Homo sapiens: one gene and its partner. The protein of the gene in region 2 purifies or fractionates together with the protein of the main gene of each other region. This does not show direct contact. Each region holds a gene or a part of one and is shown on either strand. Other genes may lie near its edges. The genes, in order: TTC28 and KHDC1.

Region 1 (3,500 bases), on a different chromosome or scaffold from region 2:
TCCAGCCTGGGCGACAGAGACTCCGTCTCAAAAAAAAAAGTTAACTGCGAATGTTAAATAAGAGAATGCATTATTATTGTATGTAGCTTCCCCCCCTTACCTGGTACGTACTTGGCATTTCTATGCCATAATGGAAGTCAAAAATCACCATGATATTGTTTCAACATACTATGGACGTAGTTCAGAAAATGTTAGGACAAATTTGATATCAACATTCTTTGCACTCACAGAATTGCATAAAGAGTATCACTTTGGTAAAGATGAAAATTACTAAGATTATTGTCCTCTAATGTCAATCATCATAAAATGAATATCAAATTAGCATTGATACTTATATTTTGCTAAAACATGCCTATAGAAAACTGGTTAGTGTTTGTTTTTGGAAGACTATAGATAATACAGTGTGAATATACAAGAAACATGAGATGTTCCAAGCATCATATTTGTATCATACTATGTCTCTAGTTTCTCTTCTTAGAAAATAACAATGCACCCAGCTGCTGAAGAGACACCAAAATAAATGTTCTACCAAGTTTAAGTTCAAACATCAGGCTTCCCGCTAACAGTTTTTAAAATAGCAATAATTTAAAGGAAGAAAGATTGTAACCATGAAATTTAATGAAAAAATATTGTTTCTGCTTTCAGGAAAAAAAGTAGTGAAAAAACAGCACACAAAACAAGAATCATAGAGTAAAAATAAAGAGCTTTCAATTATACTTTTATTATTTTTAATATTTAAAATTCACTGTCAAATATTCTATATAGCAACCTTGATTTCACATGCATTTGCAATACAACTATGTGGTATGAGAGACTTGTCTTCTTTAGTGGTTCCTCAAGCGCTCACAGGGATTTCTTGGGTCGTAGAAAGGTGATGGGGACAGGAAGAGGCTTGGGGTTTCTGTTTGTGGTTTTTTCTTTGTGGTTTTTTTTTTTTTTTTTTTTGGTCTGTGGTTTTGGAGTTTTTGTTTTTCTTGGTTTTTGATTGGGTTTGTCTGTTTTTTGTTTTGTGGCTCACTTTTAACTGGAATTAATTAGCAGAAGAAGATAAAAAACAAATATCAAATCCCTACCACAGGCAAGGCATTGTTCTAAATATATACCTACATCCTCTTTTATTTAACAATTCTTTGGAATGGATATTACTATGCAATTATACATATGAGAACCATAAGATGCGTAAGAGTTAAGACCTGTTGGCTGGAGCAGTGGCTCAAGCCTGTAATTCCAGCACTTTGGGAGGTTGAGGCGGGTGGATCACTTGAGGTCAGGAGTTCAAGACCAGCCTGGCCAACACGGTGAAACCATGTCTCTACTAAAAATACAAAATTAGCTGGGCATAGTGGTGCACATCTGTAATCCCAACTACTTGGGAGGCTGAGGCAGGAGGATCACTTGAACCCAGGAGGCAGAGGTTACAGTGAGCCAAGATCACACCACTGCACTCCAGCCTGGGCGATGGCGAGACTCTGTCTCCAAAAAAAAAAAAAAAAAAAGGTAAAACATGATCATTGTAAAAATCCCAGCTGTCTTTTTTACAGAAATTGATAAGCTGATCCTAAAATCCATTTGGAAATATAAGGGACCCAAAATAGCCAGTCTTGAAAAAGAACACAGTTAAAGGACTTACACTTAATTTCAAAACCTATTACCAAGCTACAGTAATGAAACAGTGTAGTACTGGCATAAAGACAGAAAGAAATACACATCAAGAGAACAGAACTTAAGAGTCCAGAAATAAAACCTTATATATGTTCAAGTGATTCTCAAAAAAGATGTGAAGACCATCAATAAAGGAAAGGACACTCTTTTCAATATATAGTGCTGGGATAACTTTTTGTATCTATATACAAAATAATAAATTTGGACCACATACCACACACACCTCACACCACACACAAAAATTAAAACAAAATGGATCAACAACCTAAATATAAGGGCTAAAAGCATACAACTCTTAGAAGAAAACATAGGGGTAAATCATAGGGCTAAATCTTCATGACCTTAGATTTGGCAATGGCTTCTTAGACATGAAACCAAAATCATGAGCAACAAAGAAAAAACAGATAAGCTAGACTTCCTCAAAATTAAAAACTTTTTTGGCATCAGAGGACATTATCAAAAGAGTAAACCGGGTGTGGTGGCTCACACCAGTAATCCTAGCACTTTGGGAGGCAGAGGCTGGTGGACCACTTGAGCCCAGGAGTTCCAGACCAGCCTGGGCAACACGGCAAAACTCCATCTCTACAGAAAATACAAAAATTAACCGTGCCTGTAGTCCTACCTGCTCAGGAGGCTCAGGTGGGAGGATCAACTGAGCCCAGGGAGGTCCAGGCTGCAGTGAGCTGTGATCCTACCACTGTACTCCAGCCTGGGCGACAGAGTGAAACCCTGTCACACACACACACACACACACACACACACACACACACACAATGTAAAAAGAGGCATGAGCCTCTTTTATAGCTGCAGTGGCTCACATCTGTAATCCCAACACTTTCTGGGAGGCTGAGGTGAGAGGATCTCTTGAGGCCAGGAGTTCAAGATCAGCCTGGGCAACATAGCGAGACCCCTTATCTACAAAAAATTTTTAAATATTTGCCAGGTGTGGTGGCACGTGCCTGTAGTCTTAAACAATTATCATATGACCCAGATAGTCTATTCCTTAGGTATATACCCAAGGGAAATGAAAATATACATCCACACTAAAATTTGTACACAAATGTTCATAGCAGCATTATTCATAATAGCCGAAAATTGGAAAAAAAAACTCACGTGCCTATCAACAGAGGAACTGATAAAATATGGTATATCCATTCAAAAGATTACTCAGCATTAAAAAAGAATGAAGTGCTGATATACGCTACAGCATGGATAAACCTTGAAAACACTGTGCCACGTGAAATAAGTCAATCACAAAAGACCATATGTAGTAAGATTTCATTCTGTGAAACCTCCAGAAGAGCTAAACTCAGAGACAGAAAGTAGGCTAGTTATTGCCAGGGACTAGGGGAAAAGGCAATAAGGATGACTGCTAATGGGTATGGGATTTCTTGTGGACTGATGAAAATGGTCTGAAAGTATCTAGATACCTGTCTTGTTTGTGTGATTCTGTGAACATATTATAAACCACAAAATTCTGCACTCAAGGGGATTTCATGGTAGGTGAATTTATCTCATTTATCTTTATCTCAATAAAGCTTTTTAAAGACACTTTAAAAAGACATATCTGTATAAGCTACAAAAATAACACACTGAGAGACTAAAATGCCTAATTTTTCCATTTTTCTTCTTCAGCGCAATCTCAAGTCCAAAAGTCTTTCCTTCCTATATATGCATATTTTGTCCAGTGAAACAAGAAACTCTATTTTTTTATTAGAAATAAAAAAAAAAAAAAGCCAGGTGTGGTGGCTCACAGTTGTGCTTCCAGCTACTCAGAAGGCTGAGGCAGAAGGATCACTTGAGGTCAAGACTGGGAGTTCAAGACTAGCTGAGGCAAC
Region 2 (3,221 bases):
CTTCTCAGCCTCCCAAAGTGCTAGGATTACAGGCATGAGCCACAGCATTTGACTACTATAACCTGAATTCTTTCGACATTTTCTCTAAGTGTTTTTCTACTGTGAATATGATCTTTTAACCTTTATTTGGTAATTGGCCTTCTGAAAACCATGTAATTAGCAAATCTTGCTGGCTTCAAATTATTTTCCAAATTCAACCATTTCCTAACACTTCAACCACTCCACTCTGGTCCAAGTCACCATCGTCACTCTCCTAGAGTACTGCAATTGCCTCAATATAAGATGCAGGCTGCTGGAGAAGGGGCAAATTTGAAGAGGAAGAGTTCAGCTGAGGACAGGTTTAGCTTGCCATAATCTTGCCTAGACAGATCCAAATATAGACTTGGCAATCGGAGAACGTTCTTCAATGGAGATTCAGGAAGCCTTCGTATTTGATTTAATTCATGGCATGAGGGACTTCAGAATCCATTGCTCCCTGAAAACCACCCCCTCCACCCCCACCCCCACCCCCACCCACAAACTTGGGCAATCAGGGACAAGGCTGGCTACCTCATGTTCACCAGCTTCCCTGGCTGCCTACTTCACCAGGCAGTTGTGGTGGGAACACCTTCCATCTCTGTCTGGACCCTTCCTCCCACCTTTCCATTCTCCCCATTTGTCTGCACTTTAAGGTGCAAGAAAACTCTGGGGTGAATAATTTCATCCTAAGGAAAAAGGACAGTACATCGAAGGCTTTGCATCATAGGTAGCTTATTTTATTGGATTGCTTTGCCAATAACACTTTCTTACATTCAAGAGACTTCCCTCAGACATGTCTAGAAGACCTGAGAGGGACAGGTCCCGGCCACAAGTTCAAACTTTCCTCAGTGTCTATCATGTCTTTCTCACCAAAAGTGAAGCCAAGATTTCTCCTCTCATCCCCACTTCCCAGGGGAGATCAGTCCTTAATTACGGATACAGTGAACTCAAATGGAAACCCGAACAACCAATCACTTGGTAAGGGGAAGGCTGAGGAACGCTAAGACACACGGTTCCACTTATCCTGGGAGCCAAAGACAGGTCTCCAGTGTATGGTGGCACACTAATGGAGGTGACCAGGTCATCGTTGGTCAGAGGCTGGCTTCGGACACGTTCCAGCATCTCCAGGCCTGCAAAATAAGTGCCCAGGGCTAATGAACCAGGGCCCATAACTGGGGCCCATTGGCAGGCCTGGACTCCATCAGGGAGGCTGCAGGGAGGATGTCACCCCAGCCCAGACCTTCCAAGGTAGCCCATTTACACCTCCCAGCTACCTCTCCACCTTAAGCAATCTCATGCCACAAAAAAAGATGAGCACTTTTCTTCCCAATGGACTCTGGGAAGCACTTGGATTCCCCAGCCACACAAGGGATTCTTCAAGAATCCAAGATGCTACACAACTTAGCCAGAACTCCACCACCAAGTCTAAAACCACAGTTCAGCCAAGGATACCTACCTCGAGCATGATGATAGGAGTCCTGGCTCCCCACACAACAAAACATGTGCAGCAGCCACTGCCTTGCCCTGTGTGGTCCGACTACAGTCACACGAGTCTGGCCTGTAGCTGTGAACCAACTCTCCAGCTGAATAAGGGTGTGGCTGTGCACCTCAATGCAGCGAAGGTATGTGTCACCATGCCCTGTGAGCATAAGAGGTGAGAGGAGGTTCTGTCAAGCACCAGCCCTTAGGGAATGGGGAGGTGGCCTTCAGGGTAGGAATATGTGACTGATGAAGGTGGGAGGGGAGAGGAAGAGTGAAAACTGAGAAGACAAGGATGAAGAAGGGGACGTGGGCAAAGGCCACTCACCGAAGATGAGCTCCTCCTGGTCCTCTTCCATGTGAAACACCATTGGTGCATGAAAGTTTTGAGGCAGGGTCCACCACGGCTTCTTGCTGAGAGCACTCGTTCCCATGTCCATGCTCTGCTCCGACCTGATACAGAATAGGGCCAAGTCCAAGCAACTGGTTGGCAAAAGACTTGGAAAAGTGAGGGAGGGCCTAGGCTCTGTCCTTAACATAGGAACCCAACAACCTGCCCCTTGAACTACCTTAGGGTGGGTGTACAATCCCGGTATCTCTTCCCAAGATAATTCATTCCAAGTAATTATCTGTTCTGAGCTTAATCCTTCATGCCAAACTTAATCATCTGATTAGTGCTTGCCTTTCTGATGCCCCGGAATCAAAATTTTTTCTTCATTCTAAATTCAAAGGATTTTGGAGCAGATCTACTGGGTATGAACCAGGACAGGGGTTGAGGGATGGAGGTGCAAGAAGGCTCCAAATGGGCTCCCTAGATTTGCACAGGTGCTGGCAGTCACCCAATGACCAGAGTGTATTCCAACAAGACGGGGTTTGTTTGGTGTGCTGCATCAAGGGAGAGCAAACAACACGGGAAAATACACTTTACACAAACAGAAGAATGTTGTAGGGAGCCAATCGTAGGAGTTGACTGGGTGAGTCTAAGGAGTGTTTAGGGTGTAGCGGCCAGTTTTCTAAAATGGGGCAATTTGGTGATTATCCTGGTAAATTTATCTAGGAAGGGAAGTAAAGAGATTAATGTGGTCTTCATTGTGGAATGTTCTCTCTCTCTGGTTTCAAATATAGTTACAGATGGACTTTTTACACCTTGTTGCATGACAATCACTGAGCAACCTTGACTGGTTAAAATATTTAGCAGGAGATGTTTATGTTTGGTAGGGAAGATTCAACTATGCCTGTCAGCTCCCAACTGTGAGTTCCTAGGTGCTTTTTCACTCTTCAGCCTCAACTTTTGACCAAAGACAAAGTCAGCCATCAGGAATTTCATCTGTGGGGTTCAGATCTACACCATTGTCAGAATCCACTTGTCACAAGTTTATCGGGAGAACCTTCTCTACATCTGCATACAGTTGATCTCTCATGTACATTTTCTTGCAAAATACACACAGTGAATATATAATGACTCTACAGTAGCATTTAAGGCTGAACAAGATGTACTAGTCAAATTCAGGTAAGTCCTGGAAACAAAATAGTTATTAATCCTAGCAACAGGTTGCAAAGACAAAGAACTAGATTTCAAAACCAGGCCATGAAATCATGCCCCAACTCTATCTGAATCTGTTCTAGAGAGACAGGTAGTCTTTTAACCTTGCCACAAAACTGTTCTGCCTGAGCAGTAATGTTTTAGCGAGGTGCTGCAAACAGTGTTTGCTATCAAATAAAAG

What was found.
Region 1: the proteins of KHDC1 (region 2) and TTC28 purify together in Homo sapiens (affinity purification with mass spectrometry; one large-scale study listed by BioGRID and IntAct). This does not show direct contact.

The regions. Positions count from the first base shown.
Region 1 is NC_000022.11:28,673,341-28,676,840, forward strand, and holds part of TTC28 (tetratricopeptide repeat protein 28), read right to left. Parts: intron 1-3,500. UniProt on the Homo sapiens protein: During mitosis, may be involved in the condensation of spindle midzone microtubules, leading to the formation of midbody.
Region 2 is NC_000006.12:73,240,581-73,243,801, forward strand, and holds the end of KHDC1 (KH homology domain-containing protein 1), read right to left. Parts: intron 1,951-3,221; 5' UTR 1,938-1,950; coding exon 1,826-1,937; intron 1,658-1,825; coding exon 1,475-1,657; intron 1,149-1,474; coding exon 949-1,148; 3' UTR 734-948; downstream 1-733.